4 separate regions of the Homo sapiens genome follow, and all the other regions are reported to be linked to region 1. The links are microRNA targets in miRTarBase. Many come from high-throughput screens and were not tested one by one. Region 1 holds a microRNA gene; each other region holds the end of a gene's coding sequence.

Region 1 (8,028 bases):
TTGTTTTTGTTGTTGTTTTTTTGAGACGGAGTCTCACTCTGTCATCCAGGCTGGAGTGCAGTGGCGCGATCTTGGCTCACTGCAAGCTCCATCTCCTGGGTTCACGCCATTCTCCTGCCTCAGCCTCCCAAGTAGCTGGGACTACAAGCACCCGCCACCTCACCTGGCTAATTTTTTGTATTTTTAGTAGAGACAGGGTTTCACCGTGTTAGCCAGATTGGTCTCAATCTTCTGACCTCGTGCTCCACCCGCTTTGGCCTCCCAAAGTGCTGGAATTACAGGCGTGAGCCACTGCACCTGGCCTCTATCCTGAAGTTTTTAGGCAAATTGGGCTCCGTTCTGCCTCCACTAAGCCAGTATCTAGGGAAGCTGATGCTAAACAGAACTACAGCTCCACTAACTCAAAGGGGACCAGGTTTCTCCGTTGTCTGGAACCGATGGTCTTCCTGGGAATTGACGTTAGGGAGGATTTTTGTCTTCGTGAATTAATTTTGAGTGTGCTGCAGCTGGAGCAGCAGAACACCTTGATTCTATGCCTGGCCCCATCTTCCCCGATGGAATGAAAAACAAATGCTCTGTGGCTCAGGTCTCCCAAGCCAGAGAGTGGGGATTCCTGACATTCCTGCTTTAAAGAGAAAAGGCTGGAATAAACATGTATGTTTGACTGTTAACTGTATGTGGTTGTTCACCAGCCGTATACTGTGTGCCCTAGTAGAGTTTACAAACTAGAAGAGCTATGGGCATGGTAGTATCTGTGGACAGAAACTGATGTCCCTAGAGCTAAAGCCTCTGTCATTCTCTCCACCCTAGGCCTGGTCTCCAAGTCCTCTCCTAAGAAGCCTCGTGGACGTAACATCTTCAAGGCCCTTTTCTGCTGTTTTCGCGCCCAGCATGTTGGCCAGTCAAGTTCCTCCACTGAGCTCGCTGCGTATAAGGAGGAAGCAAACACCATTGCTAAGGTAGGTGGGTTGGGGTGGTAAGATGCCAGCAATGAAGGGACTGTTAATGGGAGATCCCTGCAGACGATGGCAACCGGACAAGGAAGCTTTGCCTGAAGTTGCAAAGATTTCTGGCTGAGAGGGGGCCCTTCCTCCATCCTTCCATAAGTAGTGTATTTCCTTTCTGTTCCTTCCCTTTTGCGGTGTGGGCCATTCACATGTCACTGTGGTTTCTGAGGGCCCCTGTGATCCTGATCCTTCCAGGTTCCAGGAACTAGGCAAGGTGCTTTGCATATATTGTCTCATGTGATCCAGCCAGCAGCCCTGTAAGGAGATCACAGGATTCACACTTTGCAGATATGGATTTATGTAGAGGGTTTATGTAGCACCTGAAGAGTTCATGGTTAATAAATAGTAGTGTCAGGATTTGAACTTAGATTTCTCTGGCTCTAAAGCCTGTGTTGTTGTTCTCAATTATGCAAAGCTAACTTCCAAGTTACCTGAGTTACAGGGAACCAAGGAATTGAAACTCTACCATGCTGTTAATAACTCCTGTCAGCAGTTCTCTCCCATACTCATGCAAGGCATTTGGGATTTTGTGGGTATTTTTTATATGTCTAGTATTTCACAGGTGGGGCCAGCCCCGACCAACAAAAATTATTCTGCCCCAAAAGCCAGTGGTACTTCTCTGAAACACTGAGGTCTGGTTGTCCTTCCTTTTTCTCAAGACCAGGCTGAAGACATACATCAGTGAAAAATCACTGCATTTTGCAGTAGGGGAAATGGTTAAATAAAATACAACATGACAGTATTACTGAGTGATTAGCTTTTACAGAGTTCTCAATAACATGGAGAAGTATTGAGTTGCAACATTAAGTAAAAAGGCAGAGTGTGTAATTGTATAGCATTCTGGAAAAAGTCTGCGGACACAGATTTGAAGGCAGTACACTGAATGCCACATTGTTTATCTAAGTGCTAGGATTTTAATTTTTCTTCAAAGTTTTCATTAAGAACACTTAAAACCATAACTTTTTTTTTTTTTTTTTTGAGATGGAGTTTCGCTCTTGTTGCTCAGGCTGGAGTGCAATGGCGTGCGATCTTGGCTCACCGCAACCTCCGCCTCCCGGGTTCAAGCGATTCTCCTGCCTCAGTCTCCCGAGTAGCTGGGATTACAGGCATGTGCCACCACGACCGGCTAATTTTGTATTTTTAGTAGAGACGGAGTTTCTCCATGTTGATCAGGCTGGTCTCGAACTCCTGACCTCAGGTGATCCGCGCGCCTCGGCCTCCCAAAGTGCTGGGATTACAGGCATGAGCCACTGCGCCCGGCGGTCATAACATTTGTATTAGCAAAAATTGGGGTGGGGGGCTTGCTGATCTCTCTGCACTCCCTCCCCTCACATTTTGGGTACCTACAATGTGGCTTACTTGATGTTTTATAGGGCTTGTTCCCCCACATAACCCCTAAGGAGGGCATGGAAAACAACATGTTCTCAAGGAGAAGCCTGAGTTTAAGGACTTAGCGAGAGTTTGCCACTGTGAGGAATTCAGACTTTGGTTCTGCCTCTGACTCTGTGTCCCTGAATCAGTTACTTGAGTTCCCTGTTCCTCACTTTGTCCAGTTGAGAGGCAGTGGCAGCCGAGAACAGGGACACTTGTCTTCTCCATCCTTCATCAGGCCTAATGTGGAAAGGAAGCTCTAGCCTTTCCCTTTTCCTGCCCCACTCCTAGGAAAAGTCACTTTTGACATGGTAGGAGCTTCCAGGTGGCTGGGTCTGGGGGAGAAAGTTGCCCTCCAGGCTTAAGACAGAAGCAGTGGGTTTGGATGGGGTGGGAAAGGCAGTGAGATGGCACTGACCACCTCCTTCTCTTCCTCAGTCGGATCTGCTCCAGTGTCTCCAGTACCAGTTCTACCAGGTACGTGACTCTGGCCTGGTAAGTACTCAGAAGCCAGGATCCTGTGATCCCTGCCAGCTCCACGGGCAGGGTGATGTGCATAGTCCTTGGTGCCTAGCCAGCCACCTCCCTGACCTGGGAAGCCATTTGTTCCCCATACTTGTTGAGGGCCTGCTATGTGCAAGGCATTAGATTTTAGGGGACAGCTGGTGCTCCATGCCCTCTTCCCACAGCTGCTGTCCATCCCACACCTGCCCTGGCCACCACCTCCAATGTCCAGATCACTTAATAGTCCCACTGGGAGGCTGAAACCAAGGAAACAACTCCACCTCCTTTCTTCCTGGCCTTTAAGTGGTGCCTATCCTGGGTTGGTGATTGTGTCTCCACAAACAACCCAGCTCTTCCCATAATTATGCCAAGGGGTACAATTGGGCTTTCTTGGTAGGCAGATCTCAGCAACCTGGCTTGGTTTTAGATCCCAGGGACCTGCCTGCTCCCAGAGGTGACAGAGGAAGATCAAGGAAGGATCTGTGTGGTCATTGACCTCGATGAAACCCTTGTGCATAGCTCCTTTAAGGTAACTCAATGTCTGGAACCCTTCCTACCTTTATCTTGGGCCTTCTTGTGAATCTGGCAACAGATGTGTAAGGCAGCCTAAAGGTGAGGAAAGAAGAGTGATTAGAAGGGAAAAGGCCAGGCCTCTGGCATTTTGGCCACCCTGTGTCACAGGTATCTAGAGGCCCCACTGAAGAATGTTGAGTAGGAACCCTGTGTGTTCCACCAGGGCTGCTATCTCCAGTCACTCCCAACAGGCTGCATCTGCCCCCGAGCCACATAGCACAGAAAGCCAGCCACGAGGGCTCTGTACAGGGCAGGCCTAAAAGAGTGGTTGGATCACCTTTGGCCCTTGCCCCTGCTTGTCTCCTCAGGAAACTCAGGCCCCAAAACTCTCAGCCCAGGTAGAATTTGTCAGAGTGGAGGTGCTAAGGAGTAGGGAAAACCAGAATGGGGTATCACATCTTGAACTAGGGTGAGAACCCCTTAATGAGGTGGCCAGAGGCACTTCCAGGAGTCTTTAAGACCTGTTTCTCCCCACCCACCTAGGGGTATGGTGGGGGCCTCATGTTTCTTTGCCACCATGCTGACAGCATTAACTTTTCTGCCTTCCAGCCAATCAACAATGCTGACTTCATAGTGCCTATAGAGATTGAGGGGACCACTCACCAGGTGAGCTGCCAGCCAGACCACACCCAGCCCAGAGGGTGGGGGGTCTGCCTTCTGCCTCACCTGTACTGGGGTCCTCCACCCATCTCAGGGCTTGGGTTCTGTCAGTTGATCCCTTTTCTATAACTCCAGCCTCCCCTTTTTATTGGTATCTTTCACTCAAGGCTTTCTCACCTTAAAAAAAGAGTTTCAGCCCCATATCCCACCCAGCTGTCTCCCTTGTTTTCTCTTTGCAACCAAGCTGTTTAAAAGAATAGTTTACATTTTATTTAATAATAATAATAGCTATCGTTTGTTAACCACCATCCCCTCACGTGGCCAGCACTGTTAAATGATTTATTACATTTCTCTGTTCCTTAAGAAAGGTATCTATACCTGTTAAGATACCTTAACCAGGTATCTCTTTGCCTGTAACAGGCAGGGAAATCAGTAGTAACCATTTTCTCTGCCCGGAATGCCCTCTTGCCCATGCTCCCCCTGCCACCCCCACTGTGAATAGCTAGTGACTTTCTTCCTCCCCAGCCCAGACATCTCCTCCTCTGTGAAGCCTTCTCTGACTGCCTTCCCTGGGGCCCTCCATTGGATTCTGCCTGAGGAAGTGCTCAGTGTGTGTCTGTCAATGTAAAGAGCACTCAAATCTAAACAGACCAGGCTCCAGCCTGCAGCCCAGGCAGTCCCAGGTTAAGGATCATGTGACACTGCTAGTGAAAGACCATTTACTCAGCTTGCTTGCCCAGAAGGCCTGCCATGCCCAGCGCCAGGCCCCGGTCAGGACTAGGCTTGGTCCAGCAGCCCTTTGACAGTCTAGCTGAGGGTATAGGGATGTGCTAAACCCTTGTAGAAAAGATGAAGGCATATTTTCAAACAGATATACACTGTGAACTCCTGGCTAACAAGGAAGGGTATGAATAATTTTTAAAAGGATGAGATTAAAATGAGGGAGCACTACCTGCCCAAGGTGGGTGAAAGGATGCCAGACTTGATGAAAGCTGGGATGAGGAAGGGGCTTGTTGGAGGTCGAAGGAATGGCAGGCTAACAGAAGTTAAGTTGTGGCTGCCTAGAACAGAGGGTTCCTGCAGAGCTCTGAGTGGTCTGGTGAGTTGGTGGCCAGTTCAGGCCTACTCTAGGAGGGAGAGTCACAGCAGGCCGACTCTCTTTGAGCTCGGGAGTAATGCAGGTAAAGGAGCTTTGGGAGTCAGGTGCCGTGGCTTACACCTGTCATCCCAACACTCTGGGAGGCCAAGGCAGGAGGAATGCCTGAGCCCACAAGTTCACAACCAGCCTGGCCTCACATAGCAAGACCCCATCTCTAAAAAAAATAAGTAAATAAAGAAAAGAAAAAGGACCTTTTTGGAAATGGTTCTAGTAGCAGCTGTGTAGGCTAGAGTCATGGAAGCAATAGAATGCAGACCGATGGGGGGTCAGGTGGCCAAAGGACTTCCCAAAATGTGCAAGATCGTAAGGGTGGACAAAGGTGTTAGTGGTGGCTGGCAGAAGCAAGCACAAGATCGGGTGCAGAGCAAGACTCGGCAGGGTGTCTGTCTAGTCTATGGTCATTGAGGGGAAAAAGTCACTTCTCCCTGGTGCAATTCATTACCTAATCATGACCTGGACAGACTGTCCTGTCGGAGCCAAGGACAGAAAGCTCCCATAGAGGCTGTGGCTGGATTCAAGTAATCCAGGATAGGCTGTTTCCATCTGTGAGGCCTATTCTTGATTACTTGTTTCTGGAGGCAGCTGATGGTCCGCCGCCGGAAACAGAGATGGCTCCTGGGACATGGTGTGTGCGCTTCTTCCTGAGCCAGGTTGAGGTTGGGACCACTGATCCATTGGAAGCCTGGTGAGGGGTACAGCCAGTTCTCCGGGTCTGTGGGGTCTCAGGGGGCCGCAGGCTTCCAGCCAGGTAGCCCAGGAGGCTGGGCTGCAGGGGTTGAGAGCTCCTTGCTGCTGTGTAACTGGTGAAGGTACCCAGTACTGCAAACCTTCATCACAGGGATGCCTCCAACAGGCTGCTCTGCTCTTCCTCAGGTGTATGTGCTCAAGAGGCCTTATGTGGATGAGTTCCTGAGACGCATGGGGGAACTCTTTGAATGTGTTCTCTTCACTGCCAGCCTGGCCAAGGTACCTAGGGGTGAGAGGGAAGAACCAGGAGTGGGTGTGGTGGCCACGGGGGTGGTCCAGCAGCTCCCTTTTGGTCCCTAGGGTTATACAGGAGGACCAGGAGTGTATCCAAACTAAGGCATCTTCTCTCCTCCTAGTATGCCGACCCTGTGACAGACCTGCTGGACCGGTGTGGGGTGTTCCGGGCCCGCCTATTCCGTGAGTCTTGCGTGTTCCACCAGGGCTGCTACGTCAAGGACCTCAGCCGCCTGGGGAGGGACCTGAGAAAGACCCTCATCCTGGACAACTCGCCTGCTTCTTACATATTCCACCCCGAGAATGCAGTGAGTGCTCCTGATGCGTCTCCACGGTAGGGATTGGGAGAGGAAGCAGACTGGAACTGTGGGCTCCACCAGAGAAGTACACCCCTCCAGGAAGACCCAGCCACCCTCTAGGGCTCTGGGGCGAGGGAGGGGGAAGCAGCAGTCGGGAGATTGACACCACATCTTCCCCCCACCAGGTGCCTGTGCAGTCCTGGTTTGATGACATGGCAGACACTGAGTTGCTGAACCTGATCCCAATCTTTGAGGAGCTGAGCGGAGCAGAGGACGTCTACACCAGCCTTGGGCAGCTGCGGGCCCCTTAGCCTGCCCTGCTTCCAAGCGACGGCCATCCCAGTAGGGGACTTTCCCACACTGTGCCTTTACGATCAGCGTGACAGAGTAGAAGCTGGAGTGCCTCACCACACGGCCCGGAAACAGCGGGAAGTAACTGGAAAGAGCTTTAGGACAGCTTAGATGCCGAGTGGGCGAATGCCAGACCAATGATACCCAGAGCTACCTGCCGCCAACTTGTTGAGATGTGTGTTTGACTGTGAGAGAGTGTGTGTTTGTGTGTGTGTTTTGCCATGAACTGTGGCCCCAGTGTATAGTGTTTCAGTGGGGGAGAAGCTGAAAGACCAAGACTCTTCCCAAGTTAGCTTGTCTCCTCTCCTGTCACCCTAAGAGCCACTGAGTTGTGTAGGGATGAAGACTATTGAAGACTCCATTGCCAAACCATGGCCTTTCCTCAGTGTTGTAAGGCCTATGCCAAGGATAAAGGAAGGGTATGCCTTTGGGTACTCCAGGCACACACCTTTCTGAAATCCTTCTCCAGCCAGCTGCTGCAGACAAAAGATCACATTTCTGGGAAGATGAGAACTTGTTTCCAGACCAGCATCCAGTGGCCATCAGGTCTTGTGGCCCAAAGGCTATGCTTGCCTCCGGCTGAGTGCCTGGGATAGGCCTTTTCTATGTCTCCCCAAGGCTGGGGTGCTGAGCCTGCCTTCCTCACCACCTAGCCATAGTCTCAAACCTGTGGGGAAGGAGGTTTTCTCCCTGCCCGGGAAGAGGACAGATAACTGATTTCCGTTCTTTTGACTGTGTTTTAAAATTCTCTTTCTAAACACAGAGTGTTGGGCCTGGTTTGTTTCTGACAAAGTTACAGTCCTGGGCCTGTAATGAATGTCGGCGGCGCTGGGGTTGCAGGGAAAAGACAAATCCTCAAAGCGTGGACGTGTGTCCCCATGGCTTGTGGATCAGCTAAGCTCGGGATCATTTCCATAAGTCTGCTTTTCAGGGATTCTCTGCTGGTGCTGGTGCAAGGACTTCTGTTCCAAAGGCTGGGAAAAACTAAGCTGTCCCAGCCCCTCCCATTTCTTGGGCAGGGCTCTTTTCCTGTTGTGTCTTCCCCCAGGGCCTGTCCTGTACCGAGCTCTGTCTGTTCCAGCCTTCATCCTTCCTGGCTGTTGCTTTTCCTCTTAAGGGCCTCAGAACTCTTGCTCTTCCTGGGCTGAGGGGGAATGAGTGTTCTTGCCATTTGCCAGCCTAA
Region 2 (8,028 bases), not on the chromosome of region 1:
TTTCACAGGTATCACCACAGTGATTCACATGTGATAAAGAGCATAGGGATAGCAAATCTCAGTTATCTAGAAAGGAAACAAGAATCTCTTACTGTGACTGATCTCAAATGGGCATAGTCCCTATTAACTAATAGTGGTTGAGGCCAGTACTGGATTGTTAACGATTTTGTTCTTTTAAATTATGAGAATATCCTTATGTTAAACTGGATGATGTCTTAGGTAATACAGAATATGAAACAAAAATTGGGGGAAAAAATGGATAGCCTAAAAAAGTTAAGTGATTTTCTCTGGTAATAGGATTTTTCATGTATCGTAGTTTCTATAAGTAGTTGTTACTTTTAAAACATGGTGGCTAGCTGAGGGGAAACAATCTGTATTAAATGATTTATGCTTATTGTTTAGTATGTATGCCTTCAGTATAGAAATACTTTGTGCTAGGCCGGGCGCGGTGGCTCACGCCTGTAATCCCAGCACTTTGGGAGGCCAAGGCAGGCGGATCACGAGGTCAGGAGATCGAGACCATCCTGGCTAACAAGGTGAAACCCCGTCTCTACTAAAAATACAAAAAAAAATTAGCCGGGCGTGATGGCGGGCACCTGTAATCCCAGCTACTCGGGAGGCTGAGGCAGGAGAATGGCGTGAACCCGGGAGGCGGAGCTTGCAGTGAGCCGAGATCGCGCCACTGCACTCCAGCCTGGGCGACAGAGCGAGACTCCATCTCAGACAAAAAAAGAAAGAAAGAAAGACTTTGTGCTATTTGTGCTATTGCTCAAAACTTAAATTTTCAGTTTTCTGATAAACTCTGCAAAAGTTAAGCTTATAGTCTCTCCCTTTTTTATTAGAGTCCTCTGTTTTTTCCCCTCATAAAGGAAGAAGAAAAAGGATGAGGAGGAAAAGTATTCCTTGATAATAAGTAAAGAAGATTTTTTTATTAAAACTTTTTAATTCTCGTAACACTATTCAGGTGTTGTTTCTGAATGTCAACAAGAGAGATCTCAGCTGAAAAATAAAGAGCTGGCTATGACAAAGTTACGTGCAAAACTGTACAGCATGCATCTAGAAGAAGAAATAAATAAAAGACAGAATGCTAGAAAAATTCAGGTAAAAAAAGAATTTTAAAAATGCTTTTAAAGGATAGAAATATTTTTATATAACTCAGCTTTTTTTAAATAACTTGGTTTTTATATATTTGTTTTAACCTGTGTTGAAAACAATTCAAGTAGTCTAAGGGCTATCCTTCTTTGATAGTAATCTTACATCTCTGCCCTGTTTTCTATATTCAAAGGTATTTTTCTCAGACTTTTAATCCGTTACTAAAAATAAAGATATATACTGAGTCCTCATTCATTTTTAATCCTTTGAAATTTTAATTACGCAAGAAAGTTGGAAAGCAAACTCAACTTGGCTTTCTTCCTGTTTTTTTCTTCCTGTATTTAATTTTTGTTGTTGTTGTTTGTTATTGACATGGAGTTCCGCTCTTGTCACCCAGGCTGGAGTGCAGTGGTGCGATCTCAGCTCACTGCGACTTCCACCCCCTGGGTTCAAGCAATTCTCCTGCTGCAGCCTCCTGAGTAGCTGGGATTATAGGCGCCTGCCACCACACCCGGCTAATTTTTTGTATTTTTAGTAGAGACGGGGTTTTGCCATGTTGGGCAGGCTGGTCTCGAACTCCTGACCTCAGGTGCTCCACCCACCTCAGCCTCCCAAAGTGCTGGGATTACAGGTGTGAGCCACCGCGCCTGGCCGGTATTTAATTTTATAACTACAGAGCCTTTTAAGAATTCCTCAATATGGGAAACTCACCACCTTGTTACCACGGAAGATGACTGCATTAATTCACAGAGATTATATGTATTCAGCGACTATAGGAATAGCATCTATGTGCCAGGCTCTATTGTCATCATCACTGTGTAGTAGACACTGTATTTTGCAGATCGGGAAACTAAGTTGCCCGAGGTCATAGAACATTGAAGTGGCTGAGGCAGGATTCAGATATTAATCTGATTTTAGAGCACGTGTTCTTTTTTCTATATCATGTTCCCATGTCATTTGAGATTCTAAGTGTTTAAAACCTGGTTCTCGCATTTGATTCATGTTATAAATCAAGAACTTAAGTCTCCAAATAAGTTAAATTTGTAGGTTTAAATTGCCCTGAATCTAGCTGCATCTCATCTTTTTCTCTATATACAGATTGGAAGTAAAGGAAGATCAGAGAAAATAAGAACATATAATTTTCCACAGAACCGGGTCACAGATCACAGAATAAACAAGACGCTGCATGATCTTGAAACTTTTATGCAAGGAGATTATCTACTGGATGAACTTGTACAGTCATTGAAGGAATACGCCGATTATGAATCTTTAGTAGAAATTATTTCCCAAAAAGTTTAAGTTGATTTGTTATTTATAGACTTTCGTAGCTTAGAAAAATTCTACAGTACATCCACATAGGGTGAAAGTACCCTTACTCTCTTGAAAAACGTTGAGTTAACACAGTTGGAGGTAATATGCATATTCTGAAGTCATAGATAATTTACACAGATCTCTCTCAATGCATTAGCAAAAATCATACAATATACAGATGGTCCTCGATTTACATTGTGGTTAATTCCCAATAAACCCATCATAAGTTAAAAATGCATATAACGTTAGCAACACAGCAGTCTCCTAATTAATGACAGCTTGACTTAACAATTTTCCAACTTTACCATGGTGTGAAAGAGGTATGATTCCTAAGCCCTAAGGAGCTCCTCAGCTTGAAATGGGGCTGCATCCCTATAAACCCATCATAAAGTCAAAAAATCCTAAAACATAAGTTGGTGACCATCTGTAATCATGATGTGGTGGTAAATCTTGGACGCTACCTTACAATAACTAGACAAAGGAAAATCATCCTTTGTCCTGTTCTGTGTAAATATTTAATGAATGATCAAAACTTCAGTTTAAATATTATGAAAAACTTTAAACATAAAGTAGTAGAAATAAGACAGTAAATACTGTATCCTAATATCCAGTCAGGATACAGAAACCATACCATTAACTTGAACAGGGATAATTTTAATATAAAAACTGTTAACTGATAATGGTATTAACTTTTAAGAGGGATGAAAGAGAGCTATGATGTCCTAGGACTGAGAGTACCCCAGGAAAGAATACCCTTGAAAGGGTCTCCCCTTCCCCATGGTGAAGTCAGGCCTAATGGAGAGAGTGGCTACAGCCTACTCAGTGATTGGGAAATTCCCTGTCTTGCCCTGGGCCAGAGCTGGTGTACCGCTGGTGGATCAGGTCTTACAAGCAAAGAACCTCACACTCCCAACTGGTAAGCCAGAAGCCTCTTGCTAGGGTGTGAGCAAAACTTGGACAGGAACTCTCAGTAGATGTTTGTGTTTGTCAAGATTCTCCAGACAAACTTCCTTAAAAGGATTGGCTTGTGTTGTTATTATTAAGTCTAACAAGTCCAAAAGCTGGAGTGTGAGGCAGGAGGCTGGAAACCCAGGAAAGCTGATGGTGCAAGGTCCAGTCCAAAGGTATCTGTTGGAGGATTCTCTTGTTCTGGGAAGAGGACGGTCTTTTTTTCTCTTCAGACCTTCACCTGACTGGATCAAGCCCACTAACATCGAGGAGGACAGTCTGCATTACTCAGAGTTCACTGATTGATTTAAATGTCAATCTCATATAAAACACCCTCACAGAAACACCTAGAATAATGTTTGACCTTATAATTGGAAAATCAGAGCAAAAGTTAAATCTCAAAAAAAAAAAAAAAAAAAGTATGACCCAGTAGCTAGGCACCTGTGGCCCCGCCAAGTTGACACATAAAATTAACTGTCACAGTATCATCTTAGAAGTGAAAGAAGCCCCTTTATCCTGCAGTGCCCCTCTACCACCACCTACTGACAAAGAACATGGTGCTATCTGGCATGGGAGAAATGTTCAGTTTGCTATGGCTTGTATGTGTCCCCTCAAATTCAAGTGTTGCCAATGTGACAGCATCAAGAGGTGGGGTCTTTAAGAGATCACTAGGCCATGAGGGATTCTCTTAGGACTGGGATGAAGGCCCATAATAAAAGAGGTTTCGGGGAGCATCCTGCTAGCTTGCCTTCTGTATGTGAGAACACAGCAAGAAAGCCCTAGTCAACAAGTGCCAGCTCCTTGATCTTAGACTTCCCATCCTCCAGAACTGTGAGAAATACATTTCTGTTCCTTACAAATTACCCAGTCTCCTGTATTCTGTTATAGCAGCACAAAATGAAGATACCATACCTGAACACCTGAACATTCTTCACAAGGTAGTAAATGCACTGCTTTATTCTGGTCTCAGTATTGTGTGCTTAATAAGGAAATGAGAAAGGGTGGATCAGGGCATAGGATGAACAAGTTACTGCTAGACCTCTCACAATGCCACTAATGGATAAGATTGTATTTTCATCATTCTTGTCTCTTCGGAAGCTAACACCATGCTATAATAGGCACTAAATAGATGTCTAAAAACACCTTAAGTATTTGTCTAGAAATCTGGTGCATTGTTCAGAAAGAACCAAAATTCAAAATAATTTCAAAGGGCCTAAAGCACTAGTTAATCAAAATTCATTAGTTTTTAATGGTACTACCACTCTCAAATTTAAAATGTCATCTTACGTTCCTCTTCCTCGCATTGGATTTATTGCTAAAACCTGGTAAACACTTTTAATCCTTTTCAATTCCATTACCACTGCTCTTGTCCAGAATTACTTCGCAGACTAATAGTCACCTGACTTCTCCCCTGCATCCGATTTGCTGTCTAATTCTGGTTACAAATAAGTAACTGCCAAACTAATCTTTCTAAAAAGCAAGACTGATCTCGTCACTCCTTTGCTCAACAATGTAAAAGCTCCCATTGTCTCCCAAATAAAACCAGCTTTCCACTGTGTATACAATACATCCATGATCTGTATCCAGCATCATTTTGTATTAGCTCACTTTATACACCACCCCCCATGCCACATCAAATTAAATTATCCTGATAAATGCAACTGCATTTACCCTTTCCCTTATTTTGTTCTTTATGTTGTAGGCCTCCTTTGTGCCCATTTCTTCAGAAGACATCCCCTACAGCCATGGTTCTCATCCAGAGGGTCTTTTGCCCCCGCAGGAGACATCTGACAACGTTTAGAGACAGTTACCACAACTGGAAGATGGAATAAAAGAGATGCTGCTAAACATCCTACAACAATTATCTGGCCAAAAATGTGCTGAGGTTAAGAAACCCTGTCCTACAGATTATTCCCTTATCCTGGTACATAGAAGTAACTCCTTTTTTTCTATGAAAATTTCCACAATTTTTTTTTTTCTTTTTGACATGGAGTTTCACTCTTGCTGGCCAGGCTGGAGTGCAATGGCGTGATCTCGGCTCACTGCAACCTCCGCCTCCTAGGTTCAAATGATTCTCCTGCCTCAGCCTCCCAAGTAGCTGGGATTACAGGCACCCGCCCCCATGCCTGGCCAATTTTTTGTATTTTTAGTAGAGATGGGGTTTCACAATGTTGGCCAGGCTGGTCTTGAACTTCTGACCTCAGGTGATCTGCCCACCTAGGCCTTCCAAGTGCTGGGATTACAGGTGTGAGCCACCAGTCCCGGCCAAAATTTCCACAAATTTAAATGTATTTGACTCATCCAGTGTTCCACATAGCTTTATTTTATACACCTTACCCCCACAGATATGCCTGATTGGTATTCAGAAATTATTTACTGAACACCTATTATGGCTATTATGTGGCAAGCCCACAGATAATAAGCACAAGGGCAGGTGTCATGTCCCATTTATTTCCATATATCCCATTGTTTTGCATGTGATAGGTCTGCGATAAGAATTTTACGAAAGAATGAGGGCAGTTCTCTCTGCACTTCATGTTCCACCTAAACACCCAACAACTGATTGATGCTGATTTGAAAAATGAGGTGTATACATCTATTGGCTTCTAGTAAAATTCAGAATGTCCCCTTGCCCTTTATTTTTTGGTCGCCAGGCTGGAGTGCAGTGATGCGATCTCAGCTCACTGCAACCTCTGCCTCTGGGCTCAAGCCATCCTCCCACCTCGGCCTCCCAAGTAGCTGGGACTACAGGTATGCACCACCATGCCTGGCTAATTTTTGCTTTTTTTGTTTTTGGTAGAGATGGGGTTTCACCATGTTGACTCCTGGGCTCAAGCAATCCTCCTGCCTCTGACTCCCAAAGTGCTGGGGTTACAGGCATGAGCCACCACACCCCGCCAGAGTGGCCCTAACTTTCTCACTTAGATGAGAATTTTAACAGGTGCCAGTGAACTGAACCTATCGACAGTTATGAATAATATAATAATTAAAGCTCAAACATTATTTAATGTCAATGATGCAGTAACCCAATAAGCTGAAAAAAAAAACCTAACAAATTATTCTAGCATGCAACAAAACATGCTTGGTTCTTTATATTACATTATGACAGAAATTTTGATTTCTCCAATAATATATCAGCCTTTTTCTAGAGAATAAAAAAACTGCTGAAGAACAAATCTAAGCTGAGGATAAGATCCAAAGGTTATATTCCAGATGCTCAGCTAATTTAATGAGCCAGGCTCGGTGGCTCATGCCACCCAGCACTTTGGGAGGCCGAGGTGGATGGATCAGTTGAGATCAGGAGTTCAAGACCAGCCTGGACAAAAAGGTGAAACCCCGTCTCTACTAAAAATATAAAAATTAGCCAGGCGTGGTGGCGCATGCCTATAATCCCAGCTACTTGGGAGGCTGAGGCAGGAGAACCGCTTGAACCAGGAGGCAGGGACTGCAGCGGGCCAAGATCGCGCCACTGCACTCCAGCCTGGGCTACAGAGCGAGACTCAGTCTCAAAAAAATACAAATAAAAACTAATGTAATGAGAAACCTTGCCTGCTTCGAATTTTGTATTTATGCCAGCATCTGAAAATAGAAGAGGTGAATACAATTATCTCTAAGGTCAAACTGTGAAGTAATGTGAAATGTACTAAAACCAACCAGGACTCCAGCAGATAGTGTTATAGGCTAGCATAGCATAAGAGGAAAGGACATGGACTTTTTGAATCCTGCAGACGGGCACTCGAATCTCCGCTTACTAGCTGTGTGGTTTTGGTAGCCACAGTGAGAATTAACTCACACTGAGAAGCACGACCATTGTACACTGAAAATAATGCTAACCTATTGTGAGAATGAAAGGCTAACATTTACATTCTTTTTTTTACATAAAAAAGCTATTATAATTTCAATATTCTATCAACAAATAACTACCTTGCCAAAATCCTTCCAACAGCTAACCACTGCAATCAGAAGAAAGTCTAAACTCTGCATGGAAAAACTACAAGGTCCCACAGGATCTGGCTTCTGCCTACCTCTCTAACCTCATCTCCTCTCTCTCTTGTTCACTAAGTCGTAGTCAGGCATTCCCTCTGCTTATTATTCCCTCTGCTTATTATGCAGCCCTGCATTGCCAGTTCAACGCATCTGGGTTCAAAGCCTCAGAAAGCGTCCTGACCATCCAAAATCCTTAACCTATACTAATCTGCATTCTCTACCCCCGATTACATTCTTTCATATCCTCTTTCGTGTTCTGAAATTGTTCACTGTCAACTTCTTTCCCATTGGTCTCTGTAAACTCCCTAAAGGACAGGACTTTGTCTTTTCAACCCTGAATCTCCAGGATCTAGCCCCAGGGCCAGGTTAGGGTGAGGCAAGGAAGCACAGGCCTCAGGTGCGTTTACGGGGATGAAAAAAATTTAAGTCATCAAGAGTGACACTATTTTAACATTTTTAAAAATGAAAAAGGCAAAAAACCCATGATGAACTAATTATCAAAATTTTAGGTAAAGACAGGATCCACCCAGCACTTGTATGATTCATCCTAATCCTGGCCGCGCCCCACAACTAATTATCAAAATTTTAGGTAAAGACAGGATCCACCCAGCACTTGTATGATTCATCCTAATCCTGGCCGCGCCCCACCGGACTCGTCACTAACGGTACTGAAAACTGACTACAGCCAAG
Region 3 (4,000 bases), not on the chromosome of region 1:
CCTCCATAGACAAGTTTGTTCCCTATCATTTTTAGGCCCAGAAGATAATTTATCCTGAGTGTTGACTAATAGAAGCCTTTCATCCTCCTTGGTTACACCAGGGTTGCAGCATAAAAATAATTGACTTTTGGGCTTAAGTGATGAATAATCCTATTTTCTTCCTAACCCCTTTGTTGAAATACCACTATATACATATATTTGTATATATAATAAATATATATACTATTTATTTGTGTATGTGTATATAAATAGCATATATATACACACACACTGTTTTATCTGAAAACTTGCTTGACCCTTCATACAGTATAAAGCCTGAATTTTTCAACTGAGGACTTTTCCAAGCCTGCTAAAGTAAATTTGGTTTGAGTTTTTGTTTGTTTGTTTGTTTTAATCATAGATTTCTGGAGCTCAGTGTAAACTGTTCTGGCATATGTAAATTACATTTTAAATAAGTTCTTTGAAAGTTTTCATATAAATAGGACACAACTTTTTTATAATACTATCTGTTTAGCTAGTAGTTCACTTATTTCATATTAACCTTGAGGCAACTGTTGGCCAAATATGGCAGTTTTAAATAACATGAAGAGTCTTATGTATTTATGACTTTTTGATTATAAGAAACAGAATTAAAATTAGAGCTGACATCAGCCAAATTTGATCGAGATTTTTCACGTGTGACCTCTCATAAATCAATTCTGGAAGGGGTGGTGTGGTGGATAAGGTATATGGGGGACATTGGATAGATAGAGAAGATAAGAAGGATTAAGAGAATCCTTGTAGTTCAGAAAGACCCCCACCAAAAAATCCTTGTAATTTGGGAAGACATATTCCAAATGTATTGAATAGTTTCTGAAAACAAAATCACAATGCCAAAGAATTATCTTTAATTTTTGAACTTCTAGTAAATTGATTCTACTTGAATGATTAAGAAAACCCATGTAGCCGGGCGCGGTGGCTCAAGCCTGTAATCCCAGCACTTTGGGAGGCCGAGGCGGGCGGATCACAAGGTCAGGAGATCGAGACCATCCTGGCTAACAGGGTGAAACCCCGTCTCTACTAAAAATACAAAAAATTAGCCGGGCCTGGTGGCGGGCGCCTGTAGTCCCAGCTACTCGGGAGGCTGAGGCAGGAGAATGGCGTGAACCTGGGAGGCGGAGCTTGCAATGAGCCGAGATCGTGCCACTGCACTCCAGCCTGGGCGACAGAGCGAGACTCCGTCTCAAAAAAAAAAAAAAAAAAAAAAGAAAACACATGTAACCCAGAATATAATATTAAGAGGAAAGATAACAGAATTCAACAGCAATAGCCCTGTGTTCCAACATGAAAAAAACTTCCCTCAATTGAATTTTGCTTTAATGTGACATACTATTTGTATCCTTTGGGATAGAATTTAACTTCAAGCTTTGTTTAAAGTGGTAGTAAAACAGACCTTCTTTGAGGGAGAGAAAACAAAACATGTTCAGTTAGTTTGCTGTGATGTGATGGTATTTACAAGGCTCTTTTATTAATTCAGCAGAATTTGGAATTAAATGGATGGCAGCTATTAACTTGGTTCTGGAACACTCAGCAGGGCCACTGTAAGTAAGCATGCCTTAAAACATGAAACTTGTCCAAATAAAGGGTGACATAAATTTTGTAGTATAATTTAGTTTTAAAAATAAAACTAGGCAAATTACACCAGTGGACACATCAGGAGAATGTCCACAATTAGAGAATTGCTAAGATGTAGCATTACAACATGAAAGAAGTTGAGAGAAAATGTCACAACTGATGTGCACGGAGTGATCTCCTTTGTTAAAAAAAATGGGTGATGCTATCCATCTTCCTAGTTAGTAACCAATTTCCACACAGTTCTTTCACTTCTATAAGGTCTGACAACCTCTAACCCTTCCATGGATACTTACTTTTTCTCATATTATTATATAATTTTATTTAGAGTAAGGTCACATAGCTCTGAAAATAATTGTGAAGTGTATTGGGGCATGTATTAGTCCATTCTCATGCTGCTAATAAAGGCATACCCAAGACTGTGTAATTTATAAAGAAAAGAATTTTAATTGACTCACAGTTCAGCATGGCGGGGGAGGCCTCAGGAAACTTACAATCATGGCAGAAAGGGAAGCAAACACGTCCTTCTTCACATGGCTGGAGCAAGGAGAAGTATGAGAACTGAGCTAAGGGGGAAGCCCCTTATAAAACCATCAGACCTTGTGAGAACTTACTCACTGTCACCAGAACAGCACAGGGGTAACCACCCCCATGATTCAGTTACCTCCCACTGGGTCCCTCCCACAACATGTGGGGATTATGGGAACTACAATTAAAGATGAGATTTGGGTAAGGACACAGACAAACCATACCAGGCATAAACCACGTCTCATATTCCTTTTCTGCACTTCACAGGGCCTTCCTATCTGACCATGGAACACACAGAAAACACTTGATAGATACCAACTGATTCTTATTGAAGTACCCTGATATAGACTAGAAGCATTCCACAATATACAGATAAAGCACTCAGCATTAGGTGGGCTGTGGTATACCAACCACAAAATAATATATTTATTTTTCAATATTTTTTCTTTTATTGATAAAAACTACACAAAAGCTAATTGATAATTAATTTAAAAAGCAATGTTACACATTATCTTGTGTTTAGAAATTTGTCAGCTTGGCAGTTTCATTCATTGAGCCCATGGTCATATCTCTCTTATAGCCTTAGTCCACATGAGAATGATTCTGCTGGTCTTCTCATTCGGAGATCTTCATGGCTCTCTCAGGCATCCTACACAGTGAGGGCTGCCAATGGGACAAAACAAAATTCCTTCTATCATGTACCATATATGGCATTTGTCATGAAGGGTCATTCACCCAGACTTATTGGGTTTTCCAGTAGTTTTGTCAAACTTTGTGGTCAACTTTCTCCGTGGTCCGTGGTAAAGCACATTTTCTTTTGGTACAACATAAGCTTTAATGCTCATGTTTTGTATTAGAAACTTGACCAGGAAAGAAAAAAATTAAAACAAACAAAACAAGAACAAACAGCATTTTTAAAGAAAAAATAAATGAAAGCAATTTAAATAAAATCTGTGAGAATTACACACACCTAAAGAGGAAAACGGTTGTTTCCCTAGCTTCCCACCCACCCCTGTTTATTTGCTCCCCTGTGGTTCTCCAGCCCAGGAACCATGCAGTGTAGAAAAATCAAATATACAAACAAACCTATATGTAGCTAGGGTGAAATCTATTTTTATAAGAACTTGACACTCTTACTATTTACATCCGGGAGCATTTTTGTTTGTTTTATGTTTTAAAGCAAAGAAAGTTCTGCAGTCCTCCCGGTAATGCTGCAGGTGCATTCGCTGCCCTCTTCAAGCAGTTTTTTTTTCTCTTTTTCTTTTCTCTATGCCATAAATGTTTTAACAGGAACGATGAGCTTGCTCGATTGCGCGATTGTGGACACCCATTCTCCTTTAAGATGAAGGCCCTCCCTCCCCCCCATGGAGCTCCCCAGTGAGGAGTTGGCTTCAGCGTTAGTTTGCAATTCTCTCTAGGTAGATGGCCGGTGCTGCCGACCTGGCGATGGTGGCGATGAAGCTGTGGTCTCGGCCCAGCTCCAGGCCGGGGCTTTCGTCCTGCTCTGGAGACACTGTCTCATAGCCCTTGGTGACATGGAGTGGCTGGTGGGCCTGGCAGTACCCGATCACAGGCTGGTCATAGCTGTAATATGGCAAGGGCTTCATGTGGTGTGGCATCTGGATATGAGAAATAGAAAGATGGGTGGATTATAAAATTGCTTTGGAAAGATAGGACAGCACTCATCAGGTTGTATTTTTGTTCTCTTTCATGCTGTTTCAAGTCATCAGCTACAAATTCAACTACAAATAAACATTAACAAAATGATGATTACTATTTAACTCAATATTGTTTTGTCAGCATATTATGTGTATAGACTTTGTACATAAAACAGTATCTTTCAACTTTTCATTGCTCTAGC
Region 4 (8,028 bases), not on the chromosome of region 1:
CCCCCACCCTGGGAAGTACTGCTGTCACTGTTTAAGTGTATTTCAGTTCTGTTACTCCAATTCATACACACAGTCTTCCATGAGGATGGTAGGATGAACCTGGTTAGCTGGCTTTGGATAAGCAGATCAGCATGACTACCTGGAATAAAAGTGACTGACTCTAGGATAAAAATTAAAAAAAGATTCTTTCACAGCAACGAGTCTTTGCAAAACCTCTCTCCTAATAATCACAAACCAGGGGAAGAAAAGTGGGAGCAGGGAACACAGGAACACAGCCAAAGGGAATATTGCAAAATGCTTCCCGAGCTTCATCAGACAGACTTCTTGCAATGCCACGACTGGATGCATCTGCACACAATTCCGGGAAATGCCCACCTTGCTGTTCTCCTATCCCCAATTTTCTTTCTTTCTTTCTTTTTTTTTTTTCTTTTTTTGAGACAGAGTCTCTGTTACCCAGGCTGGAGTGCAGTGGTGCAATCTCGGCTCACTGCAACCTCTGCCTCCCAGATTTAGGTGATTCTCCTGCCTCAGCCTCCTGAGTAGCTGGGACTACAGGCGCCCACCACCACGCCCGGCTAATTTTTGTATTTTTAGTAGAGACAGGCTTTCACCACGTTGGCCAGGCTGGTCTCAAACTCCTGACCTCAAGTGATCCGCCCACCTCTGCCTCCCAAAGTGCTGAGATTACAGGAGTGAGCCACCGTGCCTGGCCAGTCCTATCCTCCCCCCAACCTTTTTTTTTTTTTTGACATGGAGTCTCACGCCATCACCCAGGCTGGAGTGCAGTGGCGCCATCTTGGCTCACTGCAACCTCCGCCTCCCATGTTCAAGTGATCCTCCTGCCTCAGCCTCCTGAGTAGCTGGGACTACAGGCGCCCGCCACCACGCCCAGCTATTTTTTTGTATTTTTAGTAGAGACGGGGTTTCGCCATGTTAGCCAGGATGGTCTCGATCTCCTGACCTTGTGATCCACCCGCCTTGGTCTCCCAAAGTGCTGGGATTACAGGCCTGAGCCACTGTGCCCAGCCTTATCCTCAATTTTCTAAGCATAAGGATTTAAGAGTTAGTGGGAAAGCATGACTACGGTTTAAAAGAACCTGGTCAGCTGAAGCAGTCCCACTTGGCCATTCCAGTACACTTCCTACTCTCGCTTCATGGAGAAGACCGTCTACTGACAAGAGAATCCATCCCCTTTGCACACAGTGGTCACCTGACAGCTCAGAGGTCAACTTCTTGGTTTTGAGGAAAAATTCAAAAGGCTGCACGTTTAAAGGAGTTGTTCCATTTCAGTGCCCCATTAGCCTGTCTTTCCTCAGAAATTTACCAATCTCTTGATGTGATAAGCACCAAACTATGAAGCTTTTCCCTTCCTCTCCCCGCTGCTCCGTTCTGTGAACCGACTTTTTGTCTACAATCACACTGATTTCTTCACTGTTTGCTCTGAAACTTCACTTTTTCTGAGTGATGTGTTCTGTCAAATAGGCTAAAATAAAATACAGTATCTGCTTACAGGTAATATACGGAACAATAACAAGGGACTGAAGGTACAAAACACACACGGACATTATGGTCATATAAAATATATAGAAGTACCTAACGTTAACAATTTTTGTAAGAAGTTGCACATTTTGCTATTTTTTTAAAGCATTTCCCCACATTTTTTTTCATCTGTAGATCCTCTGCAGTTAAGATTGAGCACCCCCCCGCAACTTTTTTTTTTGATACAGAGCCTCGCTCTGTCACTCAAGGCTGGAGTGCCAGTGGCATGATCTTAGCTCACTGCAACCTCCGCCTCGCAGGTTCAAGCCATTCTCCTGCCTCAGCCTCCCGAGTAGCTGGGACTACAGGCGTGCGCCACTGTGCCCAGCTAATTTTTTTTTGTATTTTTAGTAGAGACAAGGTTTCACCATGTTGGCCAGGCTGGTCTCGAACTACTGACCTCGTGATCCGCCTGCCTCGGCCTCCCAAAGTGCTGCGATTACAGGCGTGAGCCACGGCGCCCGGCCAAGATTGAGCTCCCTCTTGCAATGTTTCTCAAATTCATCACGATTGGAACATACCGACGGAATTCATTTTCTGTCTGAAGCAATGAGTGCTATACATGAAAGTTTTCCTCACATATAATATTCATCAAGTTTATTTACAGTATAAGCTTTCCGATGCTAAGGGCTGAGATGTGATTAAAGGCTTTGCCGTATTCATCACATTCAGGAGGCTCCTTTCTGGAATAAATTCTCTGATGTCTATGTGAACTGTCCCACGTATCACACGTCAACCTCTCTATACATATTTAGCAGTTTCACTTTTATGCCTTTAATATTAAGTGCTTTACATATCAAGATGTCTCATAGATCGATAATCTCAGGTTTTAGCCTTGCCTGCCAGGCTGGAGTAGAAACAAATACCCCACAACCTGAGGATTTTACTTCTCTTCCTGGCAAGGGTAGGGTATATATTGAAAAACTCTTCAAAAATTTCCATTAGGACAACTAGCATGCTAATGGTTAACTGTAGAATGTTTCAACTGTTAACAGACTTCAGCGGGCCAAGAACTTTTGAATGACTATCTTGAACGCCAATTAGATGTTGCAAGCGTTTTTGACCATGACCCAATTACACTTTGCACTGAGCATCTGATAAACGAATGCACTGCAAGTGGTTTTAATAAACAGTTGTAGCCTGTTTTCCTCAGAAAACACATCTTCAAATAGCTGCTTCAAGGACAGCATGTGGCTGAAGATCGAAGCAACCCTAGTGGCAGCTATCCAACAAAGTCAGGAAGATGTCTCCATGAAACGGAATTAAATGTGAGGGCACAGGTCACATTTAACCTTCATTTAAAAACAAAACTCAAAAGTGATGGCTGAGTTATATCAGCATATAGTTGTGGCTGAAAGAAAAAAAAAAACCAAAGGCCAATGTAAACATGACCAAAGTCCTTTCCCTCTTAAAAAATAAGTGCTTGGGTCGTTGCCTGGAGTTCCACACCTCACTTTTCAGTTTCTTTCTTTCTTTTTTTTTTTTTTGAGATGGAGTTTTGCTAGTCACCCAGGCTGGAGTGCAGTGTGCAATCTTGGCTCACTGCAACCTCTGCCTCCTGGGTTCAAGTGATTCTCCTGCCTCAGCCTCCCAAGTAGCTGGGATTACAGGTGCCCACCATCATGCCCGGCTAATTTTTATAATTTTAGTAGAGACGGGATTTTACCATGTTGGCCAGGCTGGTCTCAAAACTCCTGACCTCAGGTGATCCGCTCACCTCGGCCTCCCAAAGTGCTGGGATTACAGGCGTGAGCCACCGCACCTGGCCTCAGTTGCTTTCTAGAGGGCAAAAGTCCTTGCTCAAAAGCACAGGAGTTTTCTACAAAACCATTGCTGTGGCTTATTCTTTGAAGAAAATCCTTAAAACATTTTCTGCCTCCATTTTAGTTACTTAGATATACTCTTCTGGAGTAATGGGTTTTTCTTCCGTTGCATGGGTAGAAATATCCTAGTGACTGGTTGACTTGCAACACGTTTTCCCAAGTAATGCTGATGAAACTGCTTAGAAGCTATAGGGAAGTTGTAGTTGGTTTAAGTCATAAAGCCAAGGAGAGGCCAAAGAATGACCACTGTGCAGTTTTAGCTCCCACTTCGTTGGTTCCATATAAAACCATTTGGTCTCATGGACTTTAGCTGCTGATCAGTGAATGACTGATGAGTAATAGTTTTAGTATAAGTTTCTCAAGGGAAAGTCTCAAACTATATATGGGGTTCTCTTGTTATGGGGAGGTCACACTGATAGTCTTGAGGTTTGTTCTCAGTCTATGTTTCTGTTTCCGCAGGGCGGTCCTAGCCTTGGGTAGGACCCTTGTCCTACTTGAGTGGCGATGACTACTTACACAGCTCACAATCTCCTGTGTGTGAAACAGTCTCCTGCCATCAGCTTCTAGGTAGCCAGTTGCACCCTGCGCACAACGATGGGACCAATGAAAGTTTCATAACCTCACCTCAGTCTTTAGTGATAAGAAACAGAAAAGTCACTGTGCACTATGACGATGGCACAGCCAGCCACATCTCAGTACACTGCTGAGTTTCTCAGAGCAACAAAATACATTTAGTAATTGCCAGTGAACAATTAATGCTTTTGCAAAGTTACTGGAAAAGCGTGGGAAAAAACACTCCCTACCACGTTCCTTTTTCTGAAAAGCAACAAAAATCACATCTTCTGAACTCCAGTATCTAAGTACAAATGATTCAGAAAATCCCCAAATCATCATACTGTTCAGCAGCTAACTGCAAAGAATTCTAAGAGCTTTGCCACAGAAAGATGTCAAAAAAAAAAAATGACCTTCATCAGTGTTCATATTTTTCTTCAAGATGACGATGATAAAGTCATTTCTGACATTCCATGGTATTTACTCACTGTTTAGAAAGTCTATGCAGGCGGCTGACTAGTGCCTTTCGTTTATATTTGGAACAAAAACAGCATCAGACCCTAGAGGTTTAGCATGCCTTGTGGCTACGAAGGTCCTCTTTAGAAGCTGGGCCAGGCTACCATATTTCAGGGACTCACGATTCACAGGCTTTTATCACACACGTAGAAGTCCTGTAGAAGTCAGTCTGAATGAGTGCCTCTTAGGTGTTCAGTACTCACTATGTCCAGCACTGTGCTGGCAGGGATAGAAATATATCCCTTGACAACCGAATCTTTTTTGGGGGTTAGGGGGTGATTAAAAACTTCATACATGAAACAATGAAGGATTAAAAGACAGTATACAATCAAGTGCTAACTTGTGGAGAAATGCATTTAGGAGTGCGATAGTGCTTTAGGGATTTCAAGAAGGGAGAGATGTATTTGGAGTTGTTGTTGCCATTTCAGTAGAACTGATCTCAGGGATGAGGACAGAACCATCTACATTTGTTGCAGTCCTTTGGAACTGTAGACTGGTGCACATACCCTCTCTTTCGGGAAGAGATAGAAATCTTTGGTTTGATACTGATTAGCACAGTCCTAGATTTCTACAGCTTTGGTAGGCTACCAGTGATCATATATACAACTTATCGTATATATAACTACCTTGAGCAGCATGTCCCAATGTCGTTTTTGTTTTCACTGTCCCTCTTTTTTGAGAAATAAGCAGGATGTTGGCCAAAGTAGGGCTTGTTTGCAGCAAGTAGCATCCTAACCTCCGTATCACTTTCGTGGAGCCAATCTTGATCTTTCAACTATTATGTTGTGGTTGCCGAGAGTCCAAGAGTGCCTTAAAGGTATCCTCATTACTGAAAAGACTGACATTTCACTATGCGTGTGCTTTTCTCTTGTGTGGAAATCTCACGTGGATTATCCGTAAGATTAGCCTTTCCCTGCAGGGGCTGTGTGGAAGGATTATATGCCCAACTACTACATAAAGGCAGAACACTGCTGATGTGACTAGAAGGATCCTTAAGTGTGACTTTTGTTTTTTAATCTGTTGAGGCTGTATTTCTTTTTCCCTCCAGGAGCACACATCTCTGAAATAATTTTAGAAACAAAAGGGGGAAATGGCTTGATGGCAAATTCTTCCTTTACACACAACTTTTCAGGAACGCGCCAAATGCATCAAGGGAGGCTGGGCTGTACTCAGAGGCTCTCTCTCTGGCATGGATTCTGTGATGCAGAGTGAGGGTGGAGCTGCGGGTGAAGGCCTTGCCACACTTAGTGCACTTGTAGGGCTTTTCTCGAGTGTGAATTCTCCGATGCAAAATCAGGTATGAGTTTCGGTTGAAAGCTTTTCCACATTCACTACATTCATAGGGTTTCTCCCCCGTGTGAATTCTCTGATGCTTGGTGAGGTCCGAGCTCTGGCTGAAGGCCTTCCCGCACTCATTACATTCATAAGGTTTCTCTCCAGAGTGGATGCGCTGATGGAGGATGAGATTGGAACTGTGGCTGAAGGCCTTGCCACACTCGTTACATTCATGAGGTTTCTCTCCTGTGTGGATCCTCTGATGCAGGACAAGGTTGGAGTTAAGACTGAAGGCTTTCCCACACTCACTACATTCATAGGGCTTTTCTCCAGTGTGGATTATTTTATGGCGGATAAGGCTTGAACTTCTCGTGAAGCATTTACCACATTCATCACATCTGTGAGACTTTGTTCCCGTGGGAACTTCTTCAGGGGTGGTGAAGTTGGAGCTCAGACTGAAGCTTCTTCCCAATCCTTTCCCCTTCTCCCTTGGACCTCTCTCTCCTGTGATGGTTTTTTTGTCCTTTCCTATAGCTGGCCCTGAATCTCTTTTCTCTTTCCTGGTTTTCTCCTCAGGGTTTTTCTGCTGTCTTTCTCCTGTTTTGCCCTCCTGGTCACGTTTCTCTCCAAACTCTTTCTGGGATCTTCCTGTTGTCTCCCCGCGTGATGCTGAATCTTCCGAGGTTTCAGCCTTTGAGGTTGACTCCTCGTTCTCATTCCTGTTTTCACCACCTGACATAATAAATAGAAAATTCAAATCGCACCTTTTTCTTTTGAATATACAGGTGGGTCAAGCGACAGTTTCCCGAGAAGCTTCTACACGGCTGCAAAATGACTTTGCAATATTTTTATTTTTATTTCCTTTGAGACAGAGTCTCGCTCTGTCGCCCAGGCTGGAGTGCAGTGACGTGATCTCAGTTCACTGCAACCTCCGCCTCCCAGGTTCAAGTGATTCTCCTGCCTCAGCCTCCCAAGTAGCTGGGACTATAGGTGCATGCTACCACGCCCGGGTAACTTTTTTTTTTTTTTGAGATGGAGTCTTGCTCTGTTACCCAGGCTGGAGTGCAATGGCGTGATCTCGGCTCACTGCAAGCTCCGCCTCCCAGGTTGACGCCATTCTCCTGCCTCAGCCTCCTGAGTAGCTGGGACTACAGGCGCCCGCCACCACGCCCGGCTAATTTTTTGTATTTTTAGTGTAGACGGGGTTTCACCATGTTAGCCAGGATAGTCTCGATCTCCTGACCTCGTGATCCACCCGCCTCGGCCTCCCAAAGTGCTGGGATTACAGGCGTGAGCCACCACGCCTGGCCTACGCCCGGGTAACTTTTGTATTTTTTTAGTAGACACGGGGTTTCACCATGTTGGCCAGACTGCTCTCAAACTCCTGACCTCAGGTGATCCACCTGCCCTGGCCTCCCAAAGTGATGGGATTACAGGCATGAGCCACTGCACCCGGCCTGACTTCACAATATTAATTGGACATAAAATAGGAGAAAAACAAGGGGAAAAACTGGGACAACAGGAAGATCTGTTGTCCTAGTTTTGGAACAACAAAAATTTGGAAAATGAGAGCGCAGGCAAAGAGTGGAGAGTAAGGGGAAATGACAACAGAGGGAGCATGGGGAGAGGATGGAAGAAACAGACACAAGGGGAATGAGCAGAGGGAAGACAACAAATCACAGCAGAAGGGAAGGGATGAGAAGCAGGAGCCTTCAGAGGTCACAGGTCTACTACTGGATCACCTGATAATTAATTGGAAGGTTTATGTATACATTTAAAACATCATGTTCCATTTCTAACATTATTCATAAGTTCAAAAAAAGAACAGGTCTTTCATAGAAAATGATTAGTGGTATTAGCAGAAAGAAAGGAATAGTAAATATTTCTCCAATTCTGTGAGTTTTCTATCAACAAGCTGATGATTAACAAACAAGAAACTTTGTTTTGTTTTTGTTTTTGAGACAGGGTCTTGTTCTGTCAGCCAGGCTGGAGTACAGTGGCATGAGCACAGCTCACTGCAGCCTCGATCTCCTGGGCTCAAGTGATCCTCCTGCCTCAGCCTCCCAAGTAGCTGGGACTATAGGCCTGCACCACCCCGCCTGGCTAATTTTTAAATTTTTTTGTAGAGACAGTGGTCTTGCTATATTGCCCATGCTGGTCCTGAACTCCTGGCTTCAAGCGATCCTCTTGCCACAGCCTCCTCGAGTGTTGGGATTACAGGTGTGAGCCATTGTGCCTGGTCAAGGAACTTGTTTTGAACCTGGCAGGCTACAGGAATCTTCAGACACAGGAAATAGTTTCTATCCAACAAGGAGAGGAACAC

What was found. Region 1 holds the annotated microRNA hsa-miR-26a-5p (UUCAAGUAAUCCAGGAUAGGCU, at 5,728-5,749, shown strand). A microRNA usually pairs through its seed, bases 2 to 8, with sites in the 3' UTR of a target mRNA and lowers its output. Matches are read on the target gene's strand: a 7mer-m8 pairs with bases 2 to 8, a 7mer-A1 pairs with bases 2 to 7 and ends in A, and an 8mer does both.
Region 2: miRTarBase lists MTRF1L as a target of hsa-miR-26a-5p. Seed matches in the 3' UTR shown: 7mer-A1 at 3,040-3,046.
Region 3: the mRNA of LRRTM4 is a reported target of hsa-miR-26a-5p. The part of its 3' UTR that is shown has no 7-base or 8-base seed match.
Region 4: the mRNA of ZKSCAN1 is a reported target of hsa-miR-26a-5p. Seed matches in the 3' UTR shown: 7mer-A1 at 3,103-3,109 and 7mer-A1 at 826-832.

What each region holds. Positions count from the first base shown.
Region 1 is chr12:57,822,379-57,830,406 of GRCh38, reverse strand. MIR26A2 (microRNA 26a-2) reads left to right here and starts at 5,715; the gene lies at 5,715-5,798. CTDSP2 (CTD small phosphatase 2) reads left to right here. Exons shown (of 8, transcript NM_005730.4): 2 at 811-959; 3 at 2,817-2,855; 4 at 3,310-3,411; 5 at 4,005-4,061; 6 at 6,088-6,180; 7 at 6,318-6,503; 8 at 6,680-8,028. The coding sequence ends at 6,805.
Region 2 is chr6:152,984,258-152,992,285 of GRCh38, reverse strand. It overlaps MTRF1L (mitochondrial translation release factor 1 like), which reads left to right. Exons shown (of 7, transcript NM_019041.7): 6 at 965-1,101; 7 at 2,191-4,924. The coding sequence ends at 2,391. Among named protein-coding and RNA genes, the nearest start is that of FBXO5, 5.2 kb to the right of the region's middle. RefSeq lists an enhancer at 7,652-7,751.
Region 3 is chr2:76,745,159-76,749,158 of GRCh38, forward strand. LRRTM4 (leucine rich repeat transmembrane neuronal 4) reads right to left here. Exons shown (of 4, transcript NM_001134745.3): 4 at 2,527-3,758. The coding sequence ends at 3,537. Among named protein-coding and RNA genes, the nearest start is that of LRRTM4-AS1, 240 kb to the right of the region's middle.
Region 4 is chr7:100,031,714-100,039,741 of GRCh38, reverse strand. It overlaps ZKSCAN1 (zinc finger with KRAB and SCAN domains 1), which reads right to left. Exons shown (of 6, transcript NM_003439.4): 6 at 1-6,437. The coding sequence ends at 5,545. Among named protein-coding and RNA genes, the nearest start is that of ZSCAN21, 14 kb to the left of the region's middle. RefSeq lists enhancers at 1,411-1,910, 1,911-2,412.